Homo sapiens: one gene and its partner. The protein of the gene in region 1 interacts with the protein of each later gene in a biochemical or structural test. Each region holds a gene or a part of one and is shown on either strand. Other genes may lie near its edges.

Region 1 (16,803 bases):
ACTGACATCTTACCTGTCTTTAAAGAACATCACTTCTCCCCGAATCGTAGTTATAGCATCAAAGGTTAGCTTACTGTCACACGCTTTTGGGGTTTGTGGGCCGATGGGCTGGACAGGATTTTGGGAACGTCCTAAGGAAAATAAAATACCTAGAGTTAGTTTTGCCTAGTATTAGAAAACTACATAAACAATGAAGACAGCTTCTTCAAGGATATCGCTAATGGCTGTTTTATTTGAAATACATATAAAGACCACCAGGCCCTTGTCCGTAATGTTTTTCCCCATACTCACCATATATGGCTTGGATGCCATCAATGTCATCCTGAGCTAGCTGAACATCACCACTGAAGGTGTAGCTAGGGTACATCAAAGCCCCGATATCAGTAGAATGGGAGAGTCCAAGAGAATGGCCGAGTTCATGAGCTGCAACACGATGTAAGTTGTACTCTAAAAAGGCCAATAAATCAATTTGTAATTATTTGAAAGGTATTCAGTTTTGAGGCATTTAACTAATAAATAATTTACAACTACAAGGACTCATGTTACTATTTTATCAGTGACTTTTGAAATATATGCATGTATATCTTTTTTCCGAAGGCAGAAGGCATGCATTTATTAATAACGAAGAGACATGTTGAAACCTAAACTCTATGATTACATTGATACAATTAAAAGACAAACTCAGCTGACTGAAAGCGCACCACAGATTAATCAATATTATCAATGATTAAATGACACGTACTATTTCACACAGAAGCAAAATGTTCTATTAACATTTAATATTTTTCTTTTTCTTTTTTTCTTTCTTGAGACGGAGTCTTGCTCTGTCACCCAGGCTGGAGGGCAGTGGCATGATCTTGGCTCACTGCAACCTCTGCCTCCTGGGTTCAGGCGGTTCTCCTGCCTCAGCCTCCTGAGTAGCTGAGATTACAGACGTGTGCCACCATGCCTGTCTAATTTTTATATTTTTAGAAGAGACAGGGTTTCACCATATTGGTCAGGCTGGTGTCAAACTCCTGACGTTGTGATCTGCCTGCCTTGGCCTCCCAAAGTGCTGGGATTACAGGCATGAGCCACTGCGCCCAGCCTAATATTTAATATTTTTCTTATTTACAAAACTGATAAATGTTGACTGCTGGAAATTTTGGAAAACACAAAAAGCCTTCCTTTTCTTTAATTTCCACATAAGTTTATGACCGCTGTTAAATTTCACTGTTTTCTTCTAATGAAAAAGTTTCAATGTTGATGCCCACAATTAAAACATCAAAGTTTTCAACAATTTTCTTAATAAAAATTTTAGAGTGGCCTAGTTGTCACTGCTAAGATGTTGTTAGCTAGCAGAAAAGACCGCTCTTTCACTTTTCTAAGTGTATCACTAATTTTCTGAGTGGTAATAGAAAAATATATACTTCTATGAATGCATTCTTTCAACTAAATCAACCAATATTACAATGAAACATGAAGGGGTGGGAGAATTGAGAGAGGCAAATTTGATTGGCTTACCTCTGAAATTGTTGGTCCACCTTTCATCTTCATCAAAATGAGCATCCCCTCCAATACCTGGGCCTGGTTGAAAAGCATGAGCAAGATTTCCTCCAGGTCCATCAAAAGGAGAGTTGTCCCGATGATCTGAAAGAAACAATTCAACAAAGATTCCTTGTGGTTCTTATGTAAGCTAAGCCAGAAGGGCAAGCATTAGCTTTGTTAAGAGGCCAACAGACTTCCATCAACTGTGATGCAGTTTCCCTCTTCGAGCCCATAAAATCAACATTCATCTTAAACAATCAATTCCAGTTGCAAAGCTACGAGATCTAGGGGCAAGGTGAGGTTAAGGTGCTATAAGAAGAACTTACCTCCCCTGACAAAAGATATCATGATGTCTGCTTGACCCTCAGAGACCTTGGTGAATGTCAGAGGTGTGACATTACTCCAGAGTTGGAAGGCTTTCTCAATGGCATGGTCCACATCTGCTCTTGGCAAATCTGGCGTGTAATTTTCAATCCTTAGAATGAAACAAAATAGAGACACATTGGACATGACTTCTTACCACTGTCATGGGAAATAGCTCTCTCACTCTGGCCCTCAGTCTGCCTACCTGTAGGTCAGATGTGTTTGCTCCCAGCGAGGGTTCCCCTCAGTGAGGACAAACTGAGCCACATCAGGCACTCCACATCTGGGCTGCTTCATCACCTTCAGGGTTTCAGCATCTGGTTTCCCAGTCACTTTCAGCCCAAAGAATTCCTGCATTTGCTTCAATTTTTCAACCACTGGGCCACTATTTCTCCGCTTTTCAACTTGCCTCCCATCATTCTTCAGGTTGTAGTATTTTTCCAGGTATTTCTGACAAAAGAAAATTATCGAAACACTGCATGGGAAATCTTTCTCATTATTCTAAAAATTGATGGCATTAAGTTTTAGCCAAAACAGAGAACTGCTTTTAAACCTTGTGTTTAGATTTCGCAGTTGCTTTTATCCTTATTTTTGGTGAGAAATGAAATTTCAGAGTAGAAATGTCCCTACTATTAGTTATTGTGAAGTAAGAACTTCATAGTAGAGCAATTTTTGTAGAGCAAGATTTGCATACTGTTACAAGTCTACAATTTGTGGAGACAAGTTTGGATGTTGTTCCTTTAGTTCACTCTCACCTCCAACTGGAAAAAGAGAGCGTATGCATGGCTAGATACATTTTGGGTGGAGGGTGCTGTTTCTAGCAAAAAAAAAAAAAATCTCTTTATAAGAAACCTATCCTTAAAAAACTCTATTACATTACTGCAGAAAAATACAAACTAAAAATTTACATTATTGTCACATGCAATGCAGCATTTACCTGGACTAAGTCCACATCTTGCTCTTGTGTTTCTAGAGTCGCTGGGAAGCTGTGAGACACCACACCCCAGAACAGCAGCAGCAGCAGTGGAGGAAAGCTGTGCATACTGGCCTTTGTCTTCTTTCTCAGTGCAAGGTAAGTGATGGCTTCCCAGCCTCTTGCTGCTCCAATATCCCAGCTAGGAAGCTCCCTCTGTATATATAGAGTCCTTGCCCTTCCAGAAAGCCAGAGGCTGTCTGACTCATGCTTTATAACATCCTCTTGATTAGCTATGAATAGACTAGGCAATCATTAGAAATGGTGACTCCTAGCAGATTATTTGGAATCACTTGGTGTTGCAATGTCATGATTAACTTCAAACAAGATGTGTGCGAAGGAGACACACTCTGCCATGTAAACAGTGGTTTTCTCCAATTCATTTCTTTCCTATTTGAGAAAGGTTCTTGTTATATACACAGGTCAAAGAGTACTCCATGGTCTTTTTGAAAAAGACTGGTTCTGATGGTCATAAAGTGCTACAGGTTTCTCCACACACCTTGCTCCCAGGGCAGAGGGTGGAATTACTAACACTGCGCACCTGATGGCTGTTCGGCACCTGTACTGACTGAAGTTCAGCTCCCCCAGCACTCACTTTACGGTGGCTCTTCGGGGTTCTCTGAGGTTCCCTTCTGCCTTTGTTAAGCTGCCTGGTACCCTATTGCGATAGCACCATGGCTTCCCTTAATCTTTACTCAGAGCCAGGCATGGTGGCTCAAGCCTATAATCCCAGAATTTCAGGAGGCCGAGGCAGGGGAATCACTTGAGCCCAGGAGTTCAAGATCAGCCTGGGCAACATGGTGAGACCCCATCTCTGTAAAAAACAAACAAACAAACAAACATTTTTTAAAGTTAGCCAAGCATGGAGTCATGCACCTGTAGTCCTAGTCACTGAAGAGGCTGAGGTGGGAGGATCACTTGGGCCTGGGAGGTTGAGGCTGCATTGAGCTGTGATTGTGCCGCTGCACTCCAGCCTAGGCAACAGAGAGGGACCCTGTCTAAAATAAAATTTGAAAAAATTTACTCAGGCCTAGGATTTAAGAGCCTTACCTGAGAAGACCCCTCATCCACAGGCGGAGTATGAGATAACTCCCCACCCCTTGCCCATCATTATCATGGGACAAATAGGATCCTTCCCTGAAACTTGTCTGAATGTACCGGATGATGAAAAGGCTGGAAAGAGACTGAGCGTGACTCTGGGGTCTTATTTTTAATCATACTTGTTTCCCTTGATATGAGTCTATCTTCGCTCCTTGGTGCTAGGCAGCATTTATTTATTCTTTCATGTATGCATTCATTCATATATTTATGCATTCCTCCATTCAAAAGATCTTATTTAGCATCTCCTGCCCATTAAAATAAATACATGGCTCTGTAATGAAAGATGTGTATTCCTGTACTTATGTTCCACATTAAATTGTCTTGGGTACTGGTGACCGGTGTCACCAGTGCTATCTGTAGCATTCCTGGTAAGAAAAGTTGGTTTATCTCTGTAGCTCCCCTACTCATGCCCCACTCTCCTTCCTTGGAAGCATTTATTGAAAACATACAGTGGAGAAACACTGGCCTGTTTTATCACTTCAGCACCTTATGGTGTCTCCCACCTTTCCCACTGTATCAGGTTTGCTTTTCAACACTTTCCTCCCCTTATGGATTCCTGTTTTCTTTCTGCGTCAAGACTGATATCTTACTCATAAACAATACTTCAGTATATCTTGGATTGATTTGAGATAAGTCATATCCTTTCTAATTATTTAACTACAATTTCCTCATCTAAGTGGCATAACATGTGAGTTCAAGAGGGTAAGAAGAATGGGAAGACATTCTCACGAAAAGGAAATCCTCTTCTCAGAGGCATCAGAGGGAGGGTGCGGCAGAGACCAAAGAACACTTGCCACTGAAGTGACTCCAGCACAGACAAAGAAAATAGTGAAAGGGGCTCTTCATATTAGAGGGTGAACATAGACTATGTTTTAAAAGTCAAGGAGTGGCAGATATACTCGACTGTGAGGGAATCTAGTCACTGTGAAGACGTGACAAGCCTAGCTCCACTGAGGCCTGGGAAACAAGGGTGAGTTAATAGGTTAACTCAGGAAAGCAGCATGTGACCATCTGTGATTGGACAGGAAATTGCCTAAGACGTCACCCTGGAAGAGTCTCATACACTGTCCCATCTGGCAAGAGCCTGCACATCCTGCAATGTAGAAGTTTTCAAACTTTTATAAACCTCTGTATCCTTTACTTAAACAAAATCCCTTTTGGAAAGCAAATTTGAAAACCAGGTGAAAACAGAAGTTCTCTGATGGAAGTTGGAAATAGAGCCTTGGAGTCCCCCACAACCCGCCACATCATGCCTGCTTTTTCCTCCCTTCTCTAGCAAAGCTCCCTGCATCTGAGTCCAGAGCTCTCATGCTAAATGCTCATAGTGTTTCATTAAATGTCATAGTTGCTGACGTGGATTGGAAACTGGTTGCTTGAAACATCTTTTCGTTAATTTTTTTTCCTAAAATAAACGAAAAAAATTAAATTAAGTTTTGGTTAAGCAGCCAGCCTAGATTCACATGGCCCTGAATCTTGGAATTTCCAGTTAGGTATTCATGGAAGATCGTCTAATACAACATATGTAACTTTGCAGCTGGTGCTAGCATATGATTTATTTGAGAGTAAAAAAGAAAACAAAAATTTAGAACAGAAAGCTGGGGATTAAATCATACCAAATCCTAGCAATGCCTAAACTTAGCATAGTTTCCAAGAAGTTCAGAACATGTTAAAGTTGTATTTGCTCTTCACATCCATACTATTTGTTTCCTCTGGGAGCATCTTCTTCCCCCATAATTCTCTTTTAAATGTAATTTTCTGAAATTATTCCTTTACCCCTTATGACAAGCATAAGAGGGCTCTCGTGTGGCTGTGTCAGCTGACTCCGGACTATTTCCAGGCAGCCAGATTATTTCCGTGGTTTTCTTGGTTGCTTCATGCTGGCTGCTCTGTGAAAGGCCTCAAACATATTTGTATTTTTCCATATTAAACTTAGTCTTGAAATTTCAATCTTGCTTCATATTTTTTTATGCTGGGGAATTCAGCCGTTTTAATTTTGTAACTCCATTTGAGTGTCAGATATTTTTTCTATTTTTTTGTCCTGCAAGTCTTGAAATGGTCTTTAGCCAGAAACATTAAGTATTTAATGCTATTTTGTTGTGAGAGTTACACGTGGGAAAAATTTGCCCCACGGTCTGTATTCTTCCTACATATGGCCATGCAGTAGCTTTATGGATAACCATTGACCAGACACTTAACAGACACTTGGTACACACTGGTTCCGTCAGTCCTCATGGTTACCTTCTGGGTAGAAATGATTGATCAATTAACCCCAAGTCCCAGGGCACACAGCAGAGCGGTAGTCACTCGTTGAACACAGTTCTGTGCCACTGCAGTCCAGACATAACACATACATACTCTGGGGATAGAAATCTTGCTTCCCTAACAGAGAGAAAGTGTCTGGAGACACGAGGACTGTCACATTAACTCCCTCAAGTCCACAATAATGTCTCCATGCCACCACCCGGTCCCACAGGCCTGAAAGAATCCTCCCCTTCAAGCTGTCACTCAATCTCTCTTATTTCCCTTATCAAACTTGTTGAATTTATAGTTTATACTACCTCAACATAGTAGGTGTCTGCAAATGATTGTTACATGAGTTAATAAATGAATAGATCAATGAAGAAATAGATACTTAAATGACACTTAAATAAAGGGTCTATTTCTCATTAGGCTGAGTTGTTTATAAGAAGTCTTATGCCCATGACTTTTACTCTCCTAAGACTAAAGTTTTTAAAATTACCATGGGAAGAATTTGGATATATCAACTGACTGGACATTCAATTAACTAATTTATTTATTTAGAGACAAGGTCTCCCTCTGTCGCTTAGGCTGGAGTGTAGGGACCTCAAACTCTTGGGCTTAAGCAATCTTCCTGCCTCAGACTCCCAAGTAGCTAGAACTACAGATGTGCACCACCATGTCCCACTGATTTTTAAGATTTTTTGTAGAGATGAGGTCTCACTATGTTGGCCAGGCTAGTCTCAAACTCCTGGCCTCAAGCAGTTCTCTCACCTCGGCCTCCCAGAGTGTTGGGATTATAGGTGTGAGCCACCACACTCAGCCTTACTGGAGATTTTATATGAAGCATAGCACATTTATTTTTGGTGATTTGCATGCCATGCTACAAGCATTTAGTATCAGATTATTTTGAGCATTTTATTAATTTGTTTGTCAATAATATTTTCTTATCTGCATGGTTTATTAAACACTGTGGAAAATGCTTATAGTTAGCACATTTGTGAAACAGATTTTTGCAGCTATAGCTCCTTTTAAAGGAAATTCAAACCAAGAGACTTTCTGGGGATGAGTGCTACTCATACCATAGCTCAGTTCAGCCCTGTCAAAACCGTCCTTTCCCAGCTCTTACATCTGTGAATGTGAATTTGAGATGGATTTGAAATATGTGAGGAAGCTTCCTGTGAGATTTTGATCATGTGCCCAGACTATGACTTGCTTGTTTGGAGTCTGTGACATACACACGTGTGTGGCCTGCAGAGCTTTTAGTCCATGATTCAGAATTCAAACTATATTCCATTGTTTCAGAATTTTTCTGTTTTTCACAAAGTGAAATGTTCTCTAAGCCTGCTACCCAGTTCTTTTTAATTACTCTTAACTACTTATGCCTCAGCCATAATTCTTTCTTTATTTTTTTATTATTATACTTTTTGAGGCAGAGTCTTGCTCTGTTGCCCAGGCTGGAATGCAGTGGCATAACCATGGCTCATTGCAGCCTCCGCCTCCTGGGCTCAAGTGATCCTCCCACATCAGCCTCTCAAGTAGCTGGGACTACAGCTCTCGTACGGCAACTGGGGAACTACAGGTGTATGCCACCACACCCAGCTAATTGTTATTATTATTATTTTTGTAGAGACAGGGTCTTGCTATGCTGTTCCGGCTGGTCTCAAACTCCTAGCCTCAAGTGATCCTCCCTCATCAGCCTCCTAAAGTTATAATCATTTATGATGACCATTGGGCTGGTCAGCTGGTTTTCCTTGAACCAGTCAATTCTTTTTCTTTTTTTTTTTCTATTGAGACAGAGTGTCACTCTGTCACCCAGGCTAGAGTGCAGTGGCATGATCTTGGCTCATTGCAACCTCCACTTCCCGGGCTCAAGCAATTCTCCTGCCTCAGCTTCTCAAGTGGCTGGGATTACAGGCATGTGCCACCATGCCTGGCTAAGAATCAGTCAATTCTTATGAATTCTCACTGAAAGAAATAACATTTAACCTTTACTGGGCTCTCTATACCTTTAACATACAAAACTATTTTATCCTCACAATAATCCTGTGGAATAGTTAGGGTGGATACTATTATTTCCATTTCATAGGTGAAGAAACTGGGACAACTTTCCATGACTAAATCTTTTGTCCAAGACAGTTCCTCTAGCAAGTAGTAGAGACAGAAACTTGAAAAAGGTCTTTGGCTGCTAAACCAGGTAATTCAGCTCTTAAGACAAAAGATTAATCCCTGCAGACATCTTTTTATACTTGTCACTGAGATGCATTTTTAGTTCTAATAGAAAATTATTGATGAAACCACCAATAAGACTGCACAGTCCCTTTTTGCTTAAACTGACATCTTCTCCCGTGAATTATACCCTTCTCTCTCAAGGGTGTTTCTTGCCCTTGGCACAGATTCTTTCCCTCATCCTGTGAACATGGCTGCTCTGTGAAATACATGAAGGAGCACAACCCTAACAATTGTTGCAACCCATAACTCCTTGAGCATCACTTTTCTCTTTGTCATCAGCCTTATTACTTAACTTGGATCTTGACCTTGACCTCACCCCCTTGTAGTACATTTTCAAACATTACTATTAACATCCACCATTTTAAAAAAGTCAAATGGCTTTTCTTCAGTTCACATTTTCATCAGTCCTTTTTAGTATTCAATGCTCAGTCTTGGAAACCCTCAGCTTGGAGTTTCTGCACTTTATTTTTCTCCCTGTACCTTTCTGATTATTTCCCCTCCTTTGCTGGTGTCTCCTTCCTTCCCTTCCTCTTGAATTTTGCCATTCACCAATGTCCTGTTTTGAGTCTTCACTTTTAATCTCTGGCCACTATTTCTCCAGGACAGTCTCATCTATTCCCACAACTTCACCCAACATCCCCACAAAAATGTCTTCCTAAACTCGAGCCCTACTGTTTTCCTGAACTCCTGTCTCATAGTTTCCACTGCCACCAGGACACTTCCATCTGGATAGATCTGGTTTCATTTTCTTTTAAACCAAGACTCCTATTCCTCCTTATATACTTCTTACCTAGCACAGCTTGCTAAATCACAGACGTGGGTTCAAATGCCAACTCTGCCAATTACTAGCTAAATGACCAATTATTCAACCTTTTTATTTTCTCATCTAAAAAATGGAAATAATAACAGCACCTGCCTTAGATGGTTGTTTGGAGACTAAAATAATACATATAAAATATATTAGTACAATGACTGGCACACAGTGAACACACACAAAATATTTGTAATTATTTTTATGAATAAAATGCTTCAGTGGTATCCATTGTCTAGCACGGCAAAAGGAACAACCAGCAGAGTAAACAGACAACCCACAGAGTGGGAGAAAATCCTCACAATTGATATATCTGACAAAGGACTAATATCCAGAATCTGCAACAAACTCAAATAAATTAGCCAGAATAAAACAAACAATGTCATCAAAAAGTGGGCTAAGGACATGAACAGACAATTCTCAAAAGAAGATATACAAATGGCCAACAAACATATGAAAATATGCTCAACATCACTTATGATCAGGGAAATGCAAATCAAAACCACAATGCGATACCACCTTAATCCTGCAAGAATGCCCATAATCAAAAAATCAAAAAACAGTAGATGTTGGCATGGATGCAGTGAACAGGGAACACTTCTACACTGCTGGTGGGAATGTAAACTAGCACAGCCGCTATGGAAAACAGTGTGGAGGTTCCTTAAATAACTAAAAGTAGAACTACCATTTGATCCAGCAATTCCGCTACTGAGTATCTACCCAGAGGAAAAGAACTAAATTATACAAAAAAGATACTTGCATATGCATGTTTATACCAGCACAATTCGCAGTTGCAAAAATGTGGAACCAACCCAAATGCCCATGAATCAACAAGTGGATAAAGAAACTGTGATATATATTTATCATATATATATTTTATCATATATCATATATATACATTATATATATAAAAAATATAACAGAATACTATATATGATATATATAATACTCTGTATATTATAATATATATACTATATATAGAGTATATATATTATATATGATGGAATACTATTATATGTGGTAGAATACTACTCAGCCATAAAAAGGAATGAATTAATGGCATTTGCAGCAACCTGGATGAGATTAGAGACTGTTCTTCTAAGTGAAGTAAATCAGGAATGGAAAGTCAAACATCTTATGTTCTCACTCATAAGTGGGAGCTAAGCTGTGAAGATGCAAAGGCATAAAAATGACACAATGGACTCTGGGGACTCAGGAGGAAAGGGTGGGAAGGGGGTCAGGTTTAGATAAAAGACTACAAATTGAGTATATACTGCTCAGGTAATGGGTGCACTAAAATCTCACAAATCATCACTAAAGAACTTACACATGTAACCAAACACCACCTGTTCCCCAGTAACCTATAGAAATAAAAAATTAATTTTTAAAAAAAGCAAAACAGATATAAACTAACTTTAGCACTTAAGACCTTCCATGCTCAGGTCTAAAAATAACTTACCGGTCCCACTTCCCTCTCATCCTACCCCCTTACAAACAAAGTGAATTATATTTTTTCCCAAATGTGCCTTGTACCTGTCCTGCTTTTTTATATTTTTTATTCTCCTCTATTTCTACTTAATACAAGTCTACCCATTCTGCAAGACTTAGTATAAGGGTTACTTCGCTGATAATTTCCTCCATTACCTTTCTCCCTTTGTGAGATAGGTTTTTTTTACAGAAAGTTTTTAGTTTTCAATGAACTTGTAAACAAAAAAAGTTCCCATTTCAAAATAAAAACAAAATCCCAGATCATGCAGATGTTTACAGTGATTATGTTTATCTAAGCAACATGGATACATGTTTAGTTGTAAGATGTTAACTAAATTTCTGTGACAAATATGCTTTTTTAAATAACAAGAATATTATAAAATTAATGCAGAGTCCTAAGAATAACCTAGTAGTTACTAAGTTTTTCTTACATCTTCATTTTGGACGCTGTTATTTCTAGCACGAATGAGCAGGCAGAGCCTTTCATATGCTCAAACAATGGAATATTTGGTTGCTATCATATCAATTGGCTTTCAAGCAACAAGACAACCATTTTAAGAATGTTTTAAGTGAAGAACTTGCAAAGCCCAGGGATGGAAAAATGCTAAGAATGCACAATTGCGAGCACTTACAACCATCACAACTGTGGCTGAAGACTTTATCTCCTTCTTCTTAAATGACATCTCAAAGTAGTATAGTTCAAAACAAAAGGTTTTAACAAAAAAATTGGCATTTGCCCAATTTCTCCACTAATTTGTGTGAGTCAAACATTTAATTTTTTCACTTGAAAAAAAATGCAATAGAAAACCGGACATCATGTTTCACTATCTCAGTTAATATTCACGATTACAGCAGCTGCAATTCAGGATGCAGCATTACCAGTGCTGCCCAGAGTCAGTTCATACTGAAATTAAGTTCCTAACACCAAGTAGTTGGTTGCAACTACCATTGGCTAGTGTACATATGAAATAAAATTTCTAGCAGCAACAAATGCGAGATCAAAAGCAACAGATCATCTGCTCTGCTTCTTCTGTTACTCAGCTCGTGCTTAGAAACCAGTGGGGGTTTGGGCCTGCTGACCCTGCCCACTGGAAGAGGCTGTCTGCTGCGCTACTTTCAACTTTCACATTGTCCAATAAAATGTTTAGTCGTATTGGTGGTTCAGGGTCCTCGAAAGAATGCGGAATAGCTGTCTGAGATACACCTCATCCGGGACTTCCTCAAAGTGTAGCCCGCGATTATAGTTTAAGCACATGGCAAATTCTGCAGGAAACCCCTTACATAAAACTTCAACAGGAGTGGGCATCTTCTTTTCACTAATCTTTTCATATTTTTGTTTCTTTGTTGCGGACCTAAGTCCTTGCCATGGCAAGCTGGTTCTGTTAAAACACATCAAAACAGCCTAAGGATTCCATATCATCTCTGTGACTCTGCTCGATACCAAGATGTGCATTGATGCTGGCACGTCGGGCAGTGCTAGTGAGATTTTTATATTACCTGCACAGTATGCGTTGCCTTGTCCTGCTGTTGCTGTATTTTTTGACCAAACCAGAATCAATACGGAATAACTTACTACAGTGGTGTCCAATACCTTTAGGGAGTTATCTGGTTTAACGTCTCTATGTATAAAATTGTTTGTATGCACATACTCAATTTTATTGATTGTCTGGTCAGCTAACATAAGCACAGTTTTCATTGTGAACCTTCTTGAAGAGAAATTGAAGAGGTCTTCGAGGCTAGGTCCCGGAAGGTCTATGACTGGTACATTGCAGTCTTTTTCCTGATCATACCACGGTATGTGGGGGATGCCAAGCCTGCCTTGAAGAATCTCACAGAGTTTGCTTTCCTACAGCAACTGGGGATGCCTGGCCTTTTGAGATTCTAGCTTCACTGCCACTTGCTCGCCATTGGTGATATCGATGGCCAGATAAAGGTCCCAGAAGGAGCCAGACCTGATCTTCCTTACTAGTTTATATTTCCCTCAAACAATAAATTCGGCCTTGGATCCGCTGCTGCTCGCCATCCTAAGAGATGAAGACAGAGGCTGAGGCCAAGTCCAGACGCCTCTGAGAGGAGGACGGAGGCCTCTGGGGCTCCTCCACGGCGGAAGGTGGCAGGAAACGGGACATGGAACACGGAGGCCTCCCTCATATTCGCGGCCCGGAATCAGCTGACGGGGAACCTGATCACCGCTGCTCAGTCAGGTTTCTTGTTGCCAGGCTGCGGTTTGTGAAAGGGTTCTTGCAGTTACAAGGCTGGGCCACTTGTTTCTGGGCGGCGCCACTGCCTTGCTGTCTCAGCTATGTGCAGGCTGGAAAAAGGGGTGCGGTGAGCTAGAGCAGGGATACCATTGCCACCACTGCCAGCAGCTCCAGCCCGGAAGGACCCCTGTCCCTCTGCCGACGCTGCCGTCTTGTTACTCCAGCTCCAGCCCAATAGTTTCACTCTGAATTTTCTTAGCGCATTACACTTTCTTAAAGCCCTTTTCATATTTTCCTTATCTTCACCTCATTCTCTTAATGGAAGGTGATTTGTTGAAAAAAGGCTGATGTTTTCATTGTGTCCCTGCCCATTCTCCAAGGTTTACCAGTTGCTTTGTAGAAACTTGCTCAACAGGGGAAATGTTAGGTTACATGCAATAGAATAGAAAAAGTGGCACTTAGTACTTTTGAGGGTAAGTGTCCCTTTAAGGGTAAGTGTCCCTTCTTTCAGTAAGAGTTCTTTCGCTTTGCAAGTCTGAGGGAAATCCTAGTGACTATGTATGCTGAAGTGGTTTGATACGGTTTTGCAGTGTCCCCACCCAAATCTCATCTTGAATTGTAGGTCCCATAATTCTCACATGTCTTGGGAGTGGTCCCGTGGGAAGTAATTAAATCATGGGGACGGGTCTTTTCCCGTGCTATTCTTGTGATAGTGAATAAGTCTCACAAGATGTGATGGTTTTCAAAAGGGGGAGTTCCCCTGCACATGCTCTCTTACCTAGTACCATGTAAGACCCTGACTTTGCTCCTCATTCGCCTTCTGCCAGGATTGTGAGGCCTCCCCAGCCATGTGGAACTATGAATCAATTAAATCTCTTTCCTTTTTAAATTACCTGGTCTCAGGTATGTCTTTATTAGCAGCGTGAGAACAGACTAATACATGGTTAAACCCAAGAAACCACAGTGAACTCTCAAAGAAAATATATTTATCAGACTGTCTCAGTATATGTGGACCACATGTTAGTTAAGTATCCCCTAGACTTTTGTATGAACAAATTGAAAGCAAGTAGACTGAACTCACTCCCACTTAGTAAGCACGTCTGATCTACAAGGCTAGAAATTGCAAAAATAATCAGACACGAATTTAGCTCTTAGAAGTTAATTTGCTCATGAAATGGATGCAGCCTAATTATTGCATAAATTATTATTTCTTCAAGTAGCTGTTAAAATCTTAGGTGTAATTCCTATTATGCCAATGAATATTTATGTGGTATATATCTCCAAAAATATTATGAAAGACAGGGAAAATAAGATTCAAAATGCAAGTGTGTGCTTTCTAGGCAATTTATCCAGAAATACAAATTTAATCAAAGTCCTTTTTTACTATTCTTTAAGTTCTGGCACTTCTTACTACTGATAATAGATCTTGTCACATTGGCATAACTAATATCTGTTGGGCATTCTTGGAGAGGTAAGTGGAGAGGGACTTAAAGGATTTGTGTGGTTAGACAGCTGTCTGGACTATTTCAATAAGCCCTGCCTGCGAGGGTCCTTTGTTGGGTCTTGGGGAGCTGATAAAAGTGAATGATTCTTAAGCCATTTTATACACCAAAACATGAGTAGGTATTTGTTGGGATTTGGCTTAAGACTGAGGACATGCAACTATTCAGTTTCAGAATCACATACTGCATTGTGGAGAATTTTGGAGATTCGTTCTATTTCAGAAAGGAGACCAAATTACCTACTCTCCAAATCGTCTCATAAAAAAATTTAATCCTAGAGATCAATTGAAAAGGAAATCAACTTCTGCTTCCCTGTTTCATATTAGTGGTCCTTGAAGTTAGGGTAATATAAATGTATTATTTCCCATTTAAATCACATGCAATGAAAAGAGTTTCTGACACAGAATAGCAGAATACATGCTAAATAAGAGTTAGATTTATTATTTTTATTTTTGTGTGTGCTTTCTCAACTAAATTCAATTTCAGGTAAAATGCAGAGATAGCCTCAGCCTATCACCCTGCAACTAGACTCTGTGCGTTCTGCAGTGAAGCTGATAAAAGACAGTGCCCTATCTTTAGGCACAGCCTAGTTCTCCTCTGCGGTCTTGGGAAAGAAAACTAAGTTTCCAGGCCACACAGCTTTCAAAAGTAGAATGCCTGTGGTGGTGTAGAAGAATGTATATAGATAGAATGCATGGGACAAAATAGTTTTTATAGAAATCTTCTCTGAGGATTATAGCCAGAACCCCTCAGAAAACTCTATCTTAAAAGCTACACAACTAGAGCTTCTGTTTGTTTTCTTCCATGGCTTTAAGGCTCAGCTTGAGGTCATAAGCCCCCATCAGGTCCCCCAGTGTCTTCTGTTACTGAGCTCTTCTAGCGCCCTGCTGTCTACGTTGTAAGAGCAAATCTACATACTATTTACATGGAAGGTTAGCGCAGTCTTTCTATAAAAAGGTACCAGTGCATGTTACATATTTTACCTACACACACTTGGATCTTTATGACTCAATATCTGTAAATATACCCGTCTATGTAACTATACATACATAGGTGTATTTAACACAGTCCCAGCAAAATAATATATACATATAATTCTATAGACAGAGTATGTCATAGGATAATATATTGAGATATAAAATTATATTTTCCTCTATATTTTTCCCTGACTTTGCCAAGAACTGTGTATCTCCTAGTCTCAGAGGTGTCTTCAGGACTTCAGTTGAAACCTACATGAAGGCAATATCTCTTTCCAACTTTTGGAAAAGCCTGAGCTCATAGGAAGAGGTTGTCAGATGTCTTCAACTAAGAGGGGAAAGGAAAAAGGTTTCAGGGAGGCATGAGAGAGGGAGAGGTTTCCTTAAACTGGAAAGAGACATCTGGGCTGTTTCCACCAGGCATAAAGACCCATGCTCTACTTCTAGGTCCCTGGAAACTCCTGGGGTAGTTGTGAGGTGGGCCTAGGGAGGCAGGATCCCTCAGATCTGGATCCTTAAGAGTGTGTGAGTGAGGAAAAATGGAAACTCATACGTTGTCTTCTCCAAAACTCCAGTAGGTGGCAGAATGGAAATTTAAACCCAGGGCTCATTCCAAAGTCAATGCACGTTCCAATCTCAGTGCTTTTTAGATGTAGTAAGTGAAGATAGTTATCTCGTATGTGGAAGGGGGATGTGTAGGGGATGTATATTTCAAGTATTCTCCAAAGGATGTGATAGACAAAGTGCAGAATTTGGAATTAAATGATACAGGTTTGAATCACAGCAGAGCAATCTTGGGTGTTATCTGCAAAAAGGAAATAATAATGCTTACACCATTTATTTATGATGTAATTGAACTGATAAGTACTTTGCAAATTGAATGACTACATATGTTGTTTTTACTACCTTCTGACCTTTAAGACTGTTTCCCATGATCAGGTACTACACAGCAATAAAAGGTAAACAGGAATTCACAGACATGTAACTCATTTCCTTAGTCTATGGCATTTTCTTGAACTAAAAAAAGAAATTTGTCTCTAGAATATTAATCAAAATACTACCTGTATACATGTATTACAAATTCTATATACTCCCATTCACTAGTACTCCAAGCAGCTTGATTACAAATGTTGAATTACCAGATGTACACAGAAACAGAATATAGAACTGGAAACAGCATTCTTGTGTGAAAAAAAAAACTGATTTTTGTATAAGGCAGATTTGGATTCAAAAACTGAGTTTGCAACTTTTGAGACTTACATTCTTGGGTATGTTAACCTCTCTAATACTGTTTTCTCACCTATACAGTGGAAATAATAACATTAATATCCAGCATGACAGTTTTGAGGATAATTAAATCCCCACATGCAACGTACATCATGCTTGTCAC
Region 2 (16,838 bases), on another chromosome or scaffold:
CTGTTATTTAAAAGAGCGAACAGAGGGATTAAAATGAACAGCCAGGGTTGAGTATTACCAGGCGAAAGTCCAGGCTGGCTGCTTGAAGACCAGCTCCTTATCACAGCTGTGAAGACCTGCTATGCTCCCCATATAGGTCCAGCCCCTTACCTCCCAGCCTTCACAGGGCCTGTCAAAGTCAGATCTTCACCAGGCCAAAATGGGGTTTTTGGAATAATTTCTGCCACCTGCAATTCCCTAGACTCAGCCATTTGTTTTCTTGTAACAATATTTTTTCTAATATGAAATTAACTGCTAGTCAGTTGGCACCCAGGCTGCATAGGAGTTACCATCTGTTTCCCATCTGTAAAATGTCAGACATGATCACCCTAATCTCATGGGTTATTTACATCTTGAAAGTACACATTTTTAGGCAATTTTTTAATCTTTACCTTGTCTGTTTGCACCCCAGTTAGGTACATCAGTGGGTTCTTTTCTTTGGTATACTGAGGGATGTGGATGATTACAGTTGCCATGCTTACTGGAACACTTCCTGTTGTTACCTATGTAGAGAATAAAATGTGCCAGTACTGCAACAGGATGTACATGATGCAAGGAAATTCACCAGTAACCCCGTGTTGATGAAGGGCAACTACGAGGTGGTAAGACTGAGTCCAAATGAAAGTCAGCCATTACTTTATAGTCACACTTCAGGTCTCTGTGTCTCACCTCTTAAAACGCATTTATGCCTGAGGTTGCAATTTTTTTGAAATTTCGATCATACCTTGGCAATGACCTTGAGCAGTAGGATATAAGTAACTCCCACATGCTTAGTGCGCCAATAATGGAACACTGGGCATAAATGGCTCAATGGAAAAAAACTCAACATCTACAATGTTAATGGGTAAGTAATTTGTGACTTTGTGAGACATGTGGTATAAATGGTTAAAAATGCCATCTGTGGAGCTGGGCTGCCGGAGTGTTGTGTCCCAGTCTGCTGCTGATTAGCAGTGTGGCTTGGGCAAGGAACTTGACCTCTCTATGCTTTTCTTATTTGTAAAATAAAGATGATCAGAAATTCAGTATGTATGTGCTGGCACAGGGCACTGGTACAGCATCTGTTCTCATGGGTGGGGGTTTCTGTTCTAATTGGCCAGGGCTCATACACTACTGGTTATTTAAATATTTTAAATAACATCCCTGGGAATAATAATACCAAGCTCATAACCGATCTGGGAACTAAATGGGATAACATATGTAAAGCACTTGATACCATGGCTGGTGTATACTTATTACACACTCTATGAATGTTATTACCGCGAATTGAATAGATGCCCCATTAAAGAATGTAGTTGCCAAATACCATCCACATTTTATAAATTCTATTGTAGTATCTAGATCATAAAGATTCTTCTAAAGATTTTTTTTATCACAAAATTGCAGAGTTGCAACCATGTAACAAACAAGTGAGAAATGAACAAAAATAAAATGGTATTGGCTTAGGATAGTGGATAAATTCTTTTTACTTTCCAAAGTTTCTTTAACTTTAATTACAATATAAAATAGTTATTCTTTCACAAATTAATTTATCTTTAACTGGTAGTAATCTTTAGATTAATAATCGCTTACTAATAGTAAATAGAATTTGGTTCAAAAATATTTTTAGATACTACCTAGTATTACTGTACAGATTTGTATACAAATGGTAAACTCAAACAGAAGTGGTCTCTGAGGATAAATTGGCATAATAATTATATGCCAAAGACTTTTACCCACAGCAATACCTTCCTTTATAGTAATGCTCTGTTGGTTAATGTTGAACATTTGCCTTCAAAATATATCAAGTATCCCTTACCCAAGACACATAACTATGCACAAAGCCCAGTTGTTTACTTAACTATGATCTAGCCTATTGGTTATCAAAGTATGGCACCTGGACCAGCAGCATAAGCATCACCTGGGAGCTTGTTAGATATGCAAATGTGTAGGCCCACCCTAGACCTACTGAATCAGAAACGCTGGAGATAAAGCCCAGCATCTGTGGTTTCACAATTCCTCCAGGTGATTGTAATGCACACCCAAGTTTGAGAACCACGGATCTCTTTCAATTTCTTTTTACTTTCTCCTTTTATTTCCAGACTCATTTTTTTTCTTCTCACTTTCTCCTGGATTTGCCATCCTTATGACAGGCTTACCAACCTTCAGGGAGAAGATGAATTTTGGACCAACATCTTCAAAACTGTGCACGATTGAAGGAACATTCCCATCCGAAGAGATTTCATAAAAATTTATGTTGGTAGATCTGTTGGATGATGTTTGTAAAGCCAAATATTTTAGTTTGCTTTTGTTCTTGAAGGTTAATATTTCTTTTATTTAAGTATCTTATAGCTTAGGTTAAAGTAAATTTTACTTTTAGTTACAAAAGCACCAAATAAAAAGAAATGCTTGCCTATGGGCTTATCGTCCAATGTATGTTTCTAAGACTAACATAAATTCCTTTGAAAACATATTTCTTTGTGGATTTTCTGCTAAGAGTTTGTGCATTACATGTCTACCAATTCTCAAGTTTCTAAATAAGTACAAAAGTATTACTTTAGAATTGATAGTAGAAGTCTTCCCAAGATTACTGTTATATTGACTAGTATGTTAACATAGTAGACAATCAGTACTTGTTAGTTGAATGAATGGATTTATAAGCCAGGGGTTTTCACTTTGGTGTGGCTAAAATATAATAATAGGGTATTGAGCTCCTTCAGTGTTCATTATTGGATGCCTGTATTATTCGTTCTTCCTATCCTTCTTTAGTTGCAAACCAATTTGAATGGTTTGGGTCTGAATGAGGTTGGTCAAATCTGTTTCCACCATTAGTGTAGAGACCACCTTTAAGATGGATGATCCAGAGGTTTTAGTATTCTGGACCTAAAGCCACTGGATTGATCTTAACTTCTTTGCTTAAGATTGCCAACTAAGTTCTGCAAGCAAAGTGATGATGAGATCAGAGAAACCCTCATAGGACCACTCAGACTAGAATGAAACTGGGGACCTCCCCTCTCCTCACTCATTTCTGGGGCTCTGAGGTGGGATTCCAACCAGGGTAGCTTCTTTGCGTGGGGGATTAGGGGATGAGCAGTGAGGGTAGGGGTCTGAGAACACTGTGCATATCCTTTCCATTTATTCCCACTGGACAATTTACGTTAATTATAGAATGTTGATTCTATTTCTTAAAAACTTGGGGTGGATATTTTCTGAAGTAGAATTTTTTGGGTTTCTTTACTAAAACCTTGTCTTTCCCTCTTTTATGCCTTAATGATTTTTTCCATATCCTTAAAAGGAAAATATGTCACAGGGAGACTTGAGTGGATGTATTTGTCAAGGTTATATATGAGAGGAAACAATGATTTGTCAGCCTGACATGGAAAATGGGAAAACTGACTAGGATTTGAAACAGAAAGCTTGGATGTGTGTGCATGAATTATTTCCTATGCCTTCCAGAAGATCTTTGTGTGAGATCCTAAATGGGGCCAATTTCTAAATTAATATGGTCTGCATTTGCATTTTAAAGAGATCTGACACTTTTCCATTTGTTACTTAAGTGTTGATCAATATATTTATAATAGTAAATATCTATACTCAGGGGGATCCTGCTTCAGAAATAATACTATTATCGCTATTTCTACCCATCATTTTTTTTACAATATAACTGTACAGTTATACAGTATCAAAGTTGTTGCTAAGAAATACACTAAGTTATTGTGTAGGATTTTTTCCAAAAGTTTGCAAAGATGTTTGTTATTTTTTTTGCAGCATTGCTTATGATGGTTAAACAAAACAAAATAAAAATGCAAAACAACCAAATGTCTTGTTAATATTGAATTGGTTACATAAATTATGATCCAGCCAGGACTGGAATAAGTTAGATCTGTATGTCCTCATATGAAAACTTTTCTAAGATTATGTAAAATGCAAGGTACAGAAGAGTGTTTTATCATTCCTTTTGGGTAATAAAATGTGCACATGTGTGTGTATATATATGTGTATGTGTGTGTTACATGCATATATCCTGGTAGATAAGCAACCCTGTATCTGGAAGATATTCTGAAAACAGTCTCTTATGGGGAGTGGCACTAGGGAAGGTGGGGAGGGATGACTTCTCACTGTCTACCTTTCTCCAATGTTTGGGTTTTCTAGGTAGTAGGACTAGGACCCATTTTAACTTTTGTTCTTTATAATTCCCTACGTTAATTTTTTTGAGGATATATTTTAAAGAACATTAGAATACATTTGAATTCAAGTTGCCATTACAAAAATACCTGCCTAAGATGATAATTAGTAAAAGTAAAGTCTCATTTCAATCTTATATTTATTTCATTCTTAAATATCTGGGAAAATATTGGCCATTGTAGGAGAGTAGAATAATAAAAAGACTGTATTGACAAAAAATATTTAGAAGAAAGGATCAAATATAAGAAGGAAAAAATTCAGGTAATGTGGTAACATCAATTTGGGTTGGTTGCATTTGTTTCCAATTTCTTATTTTAGCAAGTGGGGATCCTTTGAAGTCTGCAGTTACTGATGACTTTTTCAGAGATGTATTATTTGGACGGAATTTTGTTTCTGCTTGTGCTATTTGCAACTCACTTGATACAGAAGCATTCTTTTCATCTTTGCTGTTTGGCTCAAGCTCTAGACATGATGACATATTTTCCTTTTTGTTTTTGCTCAGAGAGCTATTGGATGATCTACAGATTCCATGCTCTTAGGGGCTGGAGTGATGTGGTAGAAGTTAGACAAACCTGCTGTCACTGGATTTCTTGGGAAAGTGCTGCAGTGTGCTATTCAGGGGTCATTGATCTGTGCTGGGAAGCTGTCCTATTGCTTCACCAGGTAGAGAACTCTGGTTCCCAGGCCTGTAGGAGGGCATCACCTGTGCCCAGTGCATCTGCACAACTGTGTTCCAGTTTGTCTGTGCCATGAACTCACCTTACTTCTAAGTGTGAGTTAAAGTGATATCGACCTATTAGAACCTGTGGAATTTGTGTGTTACCCACTTACCAAGACACCTGTCCCTCTGAACAATTAAAGACAGCCTGTATCAACCAGTGACATTTACACCACTGCTCTCAGGTTTGCTTGCTTTGGGCAGGTAAAAACAGGGAACAAAGCATTTCTTTATGGATAACATCCTTTGGAAAAAACCTCATTTCCACCTGGCTGGAAGAAAACCCTAATCTGATATGTGAGGAATTTTTCCCTCAGAAACTAGACTTGATCTAGTTCCAATATTTGAATATTCAAACAGTGACTAGATTCAATATTTATTGTGGACCTACTCTGTGCAAAACATTGTGCTTGGGGCTTCAATGTCCAGGAATGGGGATACTGCTTGAGATCTCACATACAATGGGAAGTAGGCAGTGAGAAGAAAGTGAAGACAACTCTCAGGACCTTTGAGAGTTCTGTTTCAACATTTTGAGAATGTTTGCAGCTACTCAGAGGGCCTGCAATGTGGAGTGTGCCTGTGATGTGTGGCTACGGGGATCTTTCTCTGCCTTTCTGGGCTACTCTCATTGGTTTAATAAGCCTAACGAGTCACTCAAGGTTTTCCTAGGGACCAATATGTCTGTGGACTCCTGTTTTAGTTGACAAGAATTTTAATTCAAATTCTTCAGTTAAGAATGAGCATACAGAGGACTTCTTTAGCCATGAGCCAAAAATCTTCTGATCTAGAGTTGGTGTCAGTGATAGCAGGTTACCCACTGCTTCACCTACCTTGTTAAGTGAATTTCAGCATCATACAGGAGAGGAATTTTGAGGTTGACCAAATTATCAGCCTTGTTTTCTTCTTGGCTTTCACTATAGAAAGAAACATTAGGAAATTACTTAAAGAGAAATACAAAGCTATCCATCATTCCATTCATGACTTCATTATGTTTTACCTTAAGGCTTGGAAACTGAGAGACGCCTGATTCTGAAGGTTTTGAAGATTGAAGTCAAAGTTAATAGTAAAAGTCACCTAAAGACAAAATTAAAATTTCTCAGTCTATGATGCTTCATACTCAGAGGCCAACGTGAAAAAAAAAATGTTTCTCATAAAAGTAAACTCACTCAAATTTGATTCTGAATTTTATATACCTTAAGCTTTCAAATTTGTGGAATATCTTTATTTGTCCACCTTGTTTTACTATGCCTCACATTAGAATTAGAGAAGCTTGACTTCCAAGTGACACATGTAAGTTATCCAGGCGTATATACCTGTCTGAATTTGGAAGCTTTGAGCTGATGTGAAACTTGTTACTAGGGGTTAATAAATGATCTCTGTGACTCTGTGTATAGTGCTTTGACCAATGTTGCTCAACATATTTAGACAAAAAGAACTTTCCATAGTATGTGTACCTTTTGGAATGAATTGCATGGAGAAAATCCCATTTTTATTAATAATTTAAAGAAAACATTTAGATATTGAAAACTTCCCCTAAGTATGCAGCTAGTTATTTTGTGATGCCTATCAAATCATGATAGCAAGATGTTATGTTGGTAAATTAGCATATGTGCTAAGGAGGGCTTGTATGGATTGGAGGATGAAATGCAAGTTGTACCTGTTGTTCTCTCTTTAAAGCAGGGTAGCCTACATCGCAGGCAACAGACTTCTGAGATGCAGCCACCTGGCATGTTACTTCTGTCCCATCAACCTGAACAAGACCAAGGAAACAACAATGATCAATTGGCATACAACATTTGTGTGTGTATGCACGCACCTGGTAAAAGAGGTACAGTGGCATTTTAGCAGTAAGGTTGGTTCATACTGAAATAATTTATTATACCTCAAGACTTGAAATTTTATACTGCCCAGGTGGCTAATATACTACTTTTATTGCTAACCCTAAAGATACCTAGAACATCCAACAAAACAAAGAAAAGATTAAATACTGTATTTTTTCCCCAGAAAAAAATGATAGTTTTTATTTTCAGATGCACGAATAGCTTTAATTCAATATTTTGAAATGCTGGCTTTAGGAATATGTTCTTCTCAATTTATTTGAAGCATTTTCAAGAGAAGAAAGTAAAATCATATGTTGGTGTTTGTCTGTATTTTAAGTAATTTGAGGGTTTTTTTTTTTTTTTTTTTTTTAGTTTTCTTCAGGTTTTTTTTTCCCTTTAAAGGAAGTAGTTGCCACTTGGCACAGGGTGTTTAAACACCAAGGTCAGGTTAGGTTTAGAACTCTAAGCCTATTAAGATCACATTAACTCTAAATTAAATGAAATCATTGTTTAATCCTTTAATCAGATAGCTCATTTGGAAAATCTCAGCTTTTCCTTCTCTCCCTTTTTTCTTCATAATTTGGTGGTAGAGGAGGGACCAGGGAGCACTCACAGTCAAGTGTGCTCCTGGTATAATGATCAAGTCAATGTGATTAGTTGGCTTTGCTGGCGTGCATCATCTTGGCAGCAGCAACAACCATAGTTGCAAAGCTCAGGCTAAGCTTTGGGACTCAAATGTCTCAGAGCAAGTGCACCACATCTGTGCAGAATGCAGCAGCCTCATCACACTGATAGCTCAAGAAGAGTTATGGGAGTGTCTGGCTACTGCTGCCAAGTCTCAGGATAAGGGAAAAACTGACCCAAGCTGTCAAGCAGAATCTAGATATAGAGCCAGACTATGTTCTCATGCAGTTTAACTAGTCGGAAGCCACAAAGTTCAGATTGATCATGTTGAGGGTTAAGGTGCTTCTTTAAACAACTCAGAGGACATAGAGAAGACAGTGATCTATAAGTAGGAAGCATGGTGGAAGTAAGTACAGGGTCTCATCACATACCGGCAGGGAGAATGATGCAAAAAACAAGTTTTCTGAAAAATCAACAACAATTCCAGTGTTGTATGCACTTTCCCTTTTATTTTTCAGCGTTACTGAAAATGTTAACCTTTTGTTTTGGTTGCTGACAATAAAGGGTTGTTCTCTGTTAAAAGTAAAAAGGAGGGGGGAAAAGCCATTACTGTTAAATAAAAAGGCCAGTATTTTAAAATTTCACTCATTAAAAAACTAAACTCTTTAGACTTACTTAGAATACTGAGAAAATTGCTGTGTAATAAACTATCTTTGCATCAAAATGATACTGACAACAAATAAGTAAATGCAATTGGATTGTTCTTTGTTGCTATTGTATTAGAGGGAATGGAACCATTTAAATACAGATAATTTTATATTTCTTATTGTTTTACTCCTATGTGGATGGTAGACATTGAAATTTAGTTTTTAAAGGTATTTATGAGTTATGAATGTTTCTTTTGTAGAAAAACTCTATAAACATTCGTTTGAATAAAGTAATCTAGTATGTCTTTTATTTCTACATTTTACAACAAGCTTTAAAGTAAAACTTACTGAGCAGCTGGTATTTGTCGGACATCTAGGACTAGATCAGAAATGCAAAGTCCGTCCTCACCACAGTCTTTGTGGAAAGGAATCTACGAAAAAGGAAAAAAGATCCATACATTTGCTCTTGGGTTGAAAAAGCAAATTACAGAAGAATACATAGAATATTATTCTATTTACATAAAGTACAAAACCAAACAATGTTCTAGGAATATATAAATGTTTAACAAAATAATAAAGAAAAGCATTAATAAACACACAATTCAAGATAATCATTTGCACAGGGGGAGCTAGATGAAAGTGTCTATGGCGGGGACAGCTATACGCAGAGCTTCATATGTATTGGTAATATTTTTTGAGTATGAGCACAAGGCATTTACTTTATTTTTATTTATTTATTCAACAAATATATATTGAACACATACAATGGGCCAGGCCCTGCTCTAGGGAGTGGAAACACAGCAGTGAACAAGAAAGACAAAAATCCCTGCTGTCATGGAACTTAAGTGTTAGTGAACTTTATGCATATGTAATTGTAGTTCATTTAGAAAATTAAGAATTTTCAGGCTGCATCCTAACCATCCTTCAGACACTATTGCAGTGACTGTGGAACTTTATTTGCCAGTCTAAATCCAGGAAGTGTAAGCTGCACTTACACTGAAGACCTTGGCAGTCTCAGAATAGGCTTCAAGGGCAGGGCTAGTGCCAGGGTTTTCCAGACTGATGTCCACACGCAAATCCAAAGAGTTGACAACATCAGAGGGCTCCTAAACATACACACACACAAACATACAGGGGGAGACAGAGTCAGTTTATTAGAGCATAGCAACATTAAAACAAGAAAATGATTCCAAATGTGTTTACAATTTAGAGCACAGTCAGCTCTCAATTATGTAGAATATCTTTGTTGTGAATAATCAAGACTCTCGCTTCTTTTCTTCCATCCTAATTCTGCTTTTAGCCTCTCTTCTACTAAGAAACCAAAAGAGACTTGGGTCTAGTAAGAATTTGAAGCAGGGATTCTTAGTTAAGCTCATCAGTTCTTGTCAAAAAAGCACTATGTCTATACAAATGAAACCCTAACATTTGAATTTGCCTTTTCCTCAGAAGCGGTATCTTGGTATTCTTTAGTCCATTCACAGGCAGGACTTACTCTTAACTCTTGGGGGCCTCCCAGAAGTCCTCCCAGAAGGACTTATTCCTTCTGGGGGCCTGTCTACCATGACAGCTCTGGACTATGAGGAGATGTTTCCTTGGCTGGCTGCGGGCTTAGCAAGTAGGATGTACTTTAACTGGCATTGATATCAAATAGTGAAAAAGGATTTTGTTTTTTTAAACTTTAAAGAAAAACAGCTTGGCTGTCTCCATTTCCTCACTAGGGATTGCATGTATAATCTGATCCACCAGTCAGCACAGGATGGGAGAGAAGGGAAATAAGATTTTTTCCTTTAAGGAATCTATAAAATTGTCACTTTAACAAAAAAGAAGTCTACGTCTTCACAAACAAGAAACCTTCAAATTGAAAAATGAACTAAACAACTCAACTGATTTTAATTCATCTAACCGTCAACTTTATGTTTTTCTAGTGTTTACACTTAGCATTTCTTGAAGTAAGATCTCTCTGTACCATCCATTTACATCAGAAATATTTGGGTTGCTCCTTAGATCTGCATATTCCTTGGGCCTTCAAACCTAGATTTCTGATGGTAAGAACCCAGAATATACATTTCCCAAAAGTTTCCCTGGCAGTTCTTTCGCACCTTAAATTCTGAGAACTGTATTCTAAGAAAGTACTTAAATATCCTTTTAAAAAAGTGATTTCCTGAGTAAATTATCCTTTCAAATGCCATTATGTGGTTTCCAAGGTGGAAATATTCACATCATTTATAAAATAAATTTCCGGCTGGAAGTTTTCTCCTGAAAAGCATTTTTCTCACTTGGGAAATTTTCAAAATCCATGTTAAATACAGTAATTACAGCATACGATTAGAACAAATAATTGTTATCTCATAATCTACTATATTTCATCTATGTTAACTTAAATCTAATAGTAGAAACCACAATTGGAGTTATTTTTCAGTAGCTGAACAATAAATAAAATTTTTCCCTGATAGGAAAATATCAAAATAACATTTATTGCCAATGGAAAGTTCTCTCTGTTAAACATTTAAGAAAACACTGTATCTATGATTTCTTTAAGAATTGTATTTTTAGCCCTTTCATTGCAATTCTAAATGAAATTTGATGTTGCTGACTTATATAATAGATTGTGACCATAAATATTAGCATAAAGTAAATATGCTTCTTATTTATGGAATTACATAAGAAAGGCATTCATTGGAAGGGTGAGCATTTTCTAACTCATAAGCTTCCATTTTTGACTTTTACCACTCTCTCGTCTTTAGGAAGAAATAAAGTCAAAAGGGATGTTCCTGAGGCCTTACCTGTATATAAATGATGTGCTCGGGGCAACTCTGTGCTTGATTTACTACCATATTCTTCTGCAGGCACCTTTCATTGTTTTCTTTAAATAACCCCCTGGAGGTTACTCTGGATGAAAATCCATCTGCATCAAGTGTGATGTTATATACAATGGCTATGATAAAAAAAATCATAAAGAAATGTTATTTCAAATCAACTTATAGGAAAAAGCATCTTTGCTTTATTGTGTCTTCTTGGACAAAGTATCTCACATCAAGAAAATATGGAAATAGTCTTCATATTGGTGGCTTGTGAACCATAGCTAGCACCACAAAGCATTTGTCATTCTAGCTCTGATGTGACGTAGGTGACTGTGCATACAAAGAAATGTGATTCAGAGAAATGTGGCTGGGAGCAGTGGAAAGGAAACTAGACTTGCCGCCAGGAAACCTACTGTGATGAACCTGGGCAAATTGCTCACTCCCACAAGCACGGGTTTCATTACTCATAACACGGAGACACAGAATGGAAAGGAACAGTTGCTGAGCGCCTGCAACTGGACACATTCTCATGTATGCCATACAAGTTTTACAATGAATCTGGAAAGTGAATTTTATTATCTTATTTTTCAAATAATGTACTAGAATAAGTGATGTAAAATAATTCACCTAAGTTCACATGGCTAGTCAGAAGTAAAAGTTGGGTATTTTTGAAATAAGAGCTCATATTCTTTCTGCTTCCATCCAGTTGTAAGAATTAATTGTTATTGTGAAGATTAACTGAGATACTCTAAGGGAACATGGACAGTGCTTGACCTATTCTAGATGCTCACATAGGGAAATGCATGCAACACTGCAGCAATAAAGTCTCAGTCAGGCAGACTTGGTTTGAATCCTAATTCTGCTGTTTATGAGCTCTGTGACTTGGGGCAATTTACTTACCCTCTTTGAACCTCTGTTTCCTAATACCAACTCATGAAAAAAAATTATGTGATAATAACTGATGTCAGTAGCCGATGTCTAAACTATCAGAATTATTACCTTCAACTAAAGTCCACTGGCCGTGTGTCCAAAATTGAGAGAGAACACCTGGTGCCATTCACAGCATCAGCTGCCTTATTGCCTTATTTGGGGTTATTCTATCTTACTTTATTATTTTCAATATTTTAAAGGTTGTATATACTTCCCAAAACATGAATTCTACATGTTACCTTGAAAAAAATCTATCATATATGTTGTACAATTTTTCTTGCTCCAGTGACTTAACAATGCCAACAAAGATAGATAAAATATTAAAGAATTAAATAAACTAAAAATAAGTTGTGAAGATGATGTAAAGGAAAAACAATGGCAAGGAGGTGAGTGCAGTTAGGACAAAGTTAGTCCACATTATAATGCTTTTCCTTTTTTTTTCAAGCAGCTTTATAAAAATGATACATCGCTTCATGGGCTATGTTATTAATCTTAAAGTGAAGTGTGCACCTGATGCAATAAATGATAGAAACCATATGCTTTATAAATTCACTTTCCACAGTTGTGAAGATGGGATTCACGTCTTACATACTATTATTGCCAAGCAATGAAGTGACAAATGAGCTCACAATCATTTCACTTGGCTTGTCTTTGTGGACCTGAAGGCATCAGGAAAAAAGATTTAAAGGGAAAGATGCCCAATAGTAAGAAAGGCCAGAAACCCTCGGCAGCCTGTGGATGGGAAGGAAATTCTCTGAAAGTAGAATTTTTGAGTGTGCATCACCATAAGGGTTGAAGTATAGTCAAAAAGGGAAGATACATGAGACACCTCTATGCTTCGGGGCCAGAAGAGCTGACCAGTTTGCTGTTTCTGCCAAATAATATATTTCCCAAGTTAACCTATTAGGCAGACTAGCCACAATGTTTATGCAGCAACGGTTTTTGACTTAACTATCATGTGTGCTCAGTTAGATGTGCTACATGGCAGGTCAAGTGACATATGCTACTCAAAATTGGGTCAATCTTTGAACATCTGCATGGAAAACTTCCAAATGGATATGAAAAGTAGGAAAATATGGAAAGCATGTTAAGATTTGAATCTAATTTTGCTTTGTGTTCTCATCTTATTTGTATCTTGGTATGAATTATGGCAAATAACCTGCTTCTGTATTTTCAGCTTTAAGTTAATATGTTTGTCACTTAATTGAATTCCTATAGGAACTACAAGTTCTGAAGTTTAAAGCCAAATTCTGACGGAATGGGAATTGGGACCCATGAAGCAGCAGTTAATGAAAGAAGGTAGCTTTGAATCAAGTGTTAAATTGCAAGCTATGCATTGAGCATGGTGAGATAATTGGGGCAGAAGAGATGAAGGTGAGATAGTGTGCTTAGAAAAAGCTTTGAAGAGGAGGCAGGACCTCTGCCAGGCCTTGAAAGACAACTTGGCCAGCCCAAGAGAAAAGACAACAATTCCTGCTGATGCTTGCCCACAATGATTTCCTCATCCTTCCCCATCTGATGAGACATAATTCAGACTTTTACTCATTTCTCTGTATTATTTAGAACATTTAAAACACTGGGTAAAAGTTATATATTGCTTTTCATGTTTTCTTTCATTATTTCATGTTTATTAATTCCTCAACGACAGGAAAAATACTTGATACTTTTACTGAACCTGTCCTATATAGATCATGGCATAGCCAACATGATATAGTCATTTGAGTGGCAGTTCAGCATAATCTGTGTATGCTCAAGGTTTTAAGTAAGAGAAATGGAGGTAAGAGAAACTCAAAGGATGGAAGCAGGAGGGCCCTTGGTTATGTCATAGAGATTACAACTTTCTGCAGCAGAACCTTCTAGAGATGTGGAAGGAAGATCTAAACAAATCTTCCATGACTAGTGAACCATTCTCGGGCATCTCCAGTGTAAGGAAACTTAAGTGTCTATAACTAAAACCCTTATTTCTCTTGGCCTACAAACCAAAATATGTTATATTCAGGACTAAAACTCTGTAAGCCAACCAATTTCTATACAGATTATTTCAGATCTACGCACCCACTTGATTGTTTTGCTTAGTAGGTCTGAACTTTGCACTGAAGCAGAGTTTGAGAATTATCTGAGCATTCTTGTTGACCAAAGTGATTTTTTCTGGTGTGAATGAAGCTTCTATAGCTACATCAGCAATACTTTGTGACCTAAAAGACATAAAGAGTAACAGATGGATGGATGTTATTACTGAGCACACGTATTATATCCTTTATCATAGAGGACCCAGTACCAGCATTACTGAATTTTTCTCTCTACTCTCTATCAAAGCACTTTAGCAGTAGTATATATTTGAAAGCTCTAAGATGGCAGACAGAGATAATTTTTTTTTTAATTTGTGACTGCATCACTAACACAATACATGTTTAACATATTAGTTATTTATTATACTTTAGGTTCTGGGATATGTGTATTTACTCTTGATATGCTACTCTGAAATGATTTTAACTGATTTATTCAGTAAATATATTTTCTTGTTTTTTTAAAGTCTTAAGTATTATTCTTGAGTTTTATTTTTTCCACATAAAAGTTTCATTCTGCAATAAAAATAATGTACTTCATTCTTTAAAAGCACAAGTGAGATTTGTAAATAGTATCATTAAACTCAGAAATAAAAAATAATCAATGAATATTATTTTTCTGTTCTTCAAATATTTGTACATTTAAAGCACATTTTTTGACAGAGACAAATGAATGGAGATTCTTGATTGAATAAACAACTTCTTTCTGATTCTATTCCCTTGCCGGCCCAATATACTTATTTTTGACCTTGAATCACATGACCTTCACACTGTTCTCTCTGAATCTTCAACTCCTGTGGAGGTCAATGAGAGGTCAGCTAAACCTAAATAATGGCTTATTGTTTATGACTAATAATTTTAAAATATACCATTCAGTCACATAGAAGTTACACTTTACTTGTGTGGTCTGAATTTTCAGTATTTTTGAATGCACTCTCATGAGGTTTCCCTTCTGTATGCTGAGATAAGGCTATTTATAGGAAGATAACATTCAGAAATAGCCTGGATACCATTTCCAGAACTTTATGTTTTCTATGTACTGTTTTACTCACCATATGAGGAGAGAACTATATTTCTAATGGTAAGCAAATATATCTATTTTTCCTACTTGGAAAAACACATTTATTCCTTTGTGCAAACTATGATACATCGATTCCCTATAGTCTTATAGAATGCATGTGGCATTTCTATAATACCAGTACAGACATCTGTTCTGCTTTCTTAGCAGGTAATTTTTAGTTAGTTTGTGTCTGGCTCTTCCTGACTCACCAGAGTTGAACCACTTGTCCAAAGGCACCAATAGACACATCGGTGATGGAATCCCCATTTAAATCTCCATAGCCATCCAAGGACCTCCCAAAGTACTGGAGATGGCTCCTAAAGGCTCCATCGGATCCCAAGATTTTCTAAAAGAGCAGGTTTGACACGAAATTATAGTACACAACAGCTGAACCAGAAAATGGCAGCCTCTGAATTTCATTATTATATTTTCTATATAGTAATGTCCCAGATTGTGTTTATTCTCTACAAATTCTAAAGATTCATTTTTTAATCACATCTTATTATCTGATCTCTGCATCACTCTTACAGCCACATTTTCATCGAAGGGACAGCATAAATCTTTAATAAAAAATCATAAACCAGTGAAAAGATCAGTGGACTTGGAGCAAATTGATGCAAGTTCAGGTACAGGGTTAATTTCCTAGTTCTTTTCCTTCCAGTCTTACTCCAAAATTGGCTGCTCAGTGAGGCCTCATTAGTCACCCCTTCAACCACCTGATACTCCTATTGCTGAAATTTTATTTCCTATTTTAGTTTCATTTGCTTTTTTAAAAATTCCTTTATTACTATCTGGAATACTTTATCTTATCTACTTCTTTCTTTTTATTTGTCTCCTCCAATATAATATAAGGCACACAAAGATCAGAATTGTGTCTGTCCTGTTCTTATAGCATCCCCAGACTCTAGAACAGTGCTTGGGCACACAGTAGAGGCTCACTTTATATTTGCTGAGTGAAAGAATGAAGTTACAAAATAAGGCGGACGGATTGCATGGTTTACATGACGCTTTCTATGTCTAATATGATAAGACCCACAAATACATACATCACCATAACAGCTCATGGATTACCTGGGAATACTTTGTGCGGATAGTGCCCTGATGACCATTGTAAATGTATACAGCTCCAGAATTCTGATTTTCTAGTGGTGAACCAACAATCACATCATTAAAGCCATCCATGTTGATGTCTGAAAGAGCTGCAATTGCTGAACCAAATCGAGTGTTTTCAATGCCCTCGGGGCCTTCAAGAAATTGGTGCTGACCCAAAATGCCCTTGCAAAGGGGAAACAAAAGGATGATTAAAGCAAACCTTACAACTTGTATAATTAAAATTCAGAGCAGCTGGGTGTGGTGGCTCATGCCTGTAATCCCAAAGACTCCAGAGGCTGAGGCAGAAGGACTACTTGAAGCCAGGTATTTGAGACCTGCTTGAGCAATAGTGAGACCTTGTCTCTATAAAACATTTTTGTAAAAAGTTAGCCAGGAGTGGTGGCACACAGCTGTAGTCCTAGCTCTCAGGAGGCTGAAGTGGGAGGATTGCTTGAGCCTAGGAATTAGAGGCTGCAGTGAGCTATGATCACACCAGTGCACTACAGCCTGGGTGACAGAGCAAGTCCCCATCTATTTAAAAAAGTGAAAGAAATATGATAAAATAAAAAAGAAAATAAAATTCAGAGCAATCGATGACCAAACTAATTTTTTAATATTAAAAATGGATAGAATTTTAAACCTGAACTATTTATGATCAGAATTATAAATAAGAATTTCAGTAAGGTCATAAATATCTGCTCATAAACCAAGGTCAAAGGAGATAATTCTCTTTACTGTAGCTGAACAGCATCCATTTCTTGGTCTCATTTTCCTCTCAATAATACGATCTTCATCTATTTCCAACCTTTTGATTTAAAATTTTTCTGGTGAAAATTACTAATATCTTGAATGAAATTAAAGCAGACACAGAACAAAATAA

The links.
Region 2: the proteins of MMP1 (region 1) and ITGA2 form a complex in vitro, tested with the Homo sapiens proteins (one study listed by BioGRID).

What each region holds. Positions count from the first base shown.
Region 1 is NC_000011.10:102,795,161-102,811,963, forward strand, and holds the start of MMP1 (interstitial collagenase isoform 1 preproprotein), read right to left. Parts: upstream 3,001-16,803; 5' UTR 2,933-3,000; coding exon 2,828-2,932; intron 2,341-2,827; coding exon 2,096-2,340; intron 2,003-2,095; coding exon 1,854-2,002; intron 1,630-1,853; coding exon 1,504-1,629; intron 448-1,503; coding exon 292-447; intron 132-291; coding exon 14-131; exon of another isoform or gene 1-13. UniProt on the Homo sapiens protein: Cleaves collagens of types I, II, and III at one site in the helical domain. Also cleaves collagens of types VII and X.
Region 2 is NC_000005.10:53,064,215-53,081,052, reverse strand, and holds part of ITGA2 (integrin alpha-2 precursor), read right to left. Parts: intron 16,142-16,838; coding exon 15,938-16,141; intron 15,254-15,937; exon of another isoform or gene 15,213-15,253; coding exon 15,076-15,212; intron 13,936-15,075; coding exon 13,796-13,935; intron 10,945-13,795; coding exon 10,793-10,944; intron 9,116-10,792; coding exon 9,005-9,115; intron 8,441-9,004; coding exon 8,358-8,440; intron 7,936-8,357; coding exon 7,794-7,935; intron 6,669-7,793; coding exon 6,576-6,668; intron 5,993-6,575; coding exon 5,916-5,992; intron 5,833-5,915; coding exon 5,749-5,832; intron 2,282-5,748; coding exon 2,179-2,281; intron 543-2,178; coding exon 432-542; intron 1-431. UniProt on the Homo sapiens protein: Integrin alpha-2/beta-1 is a receptor for laminin, collagen, collagen C-propeptides, fibronectin and E-cadherin. It recognizes the proline-hydroxylated sequence G-F-P-G-E-R in collagen.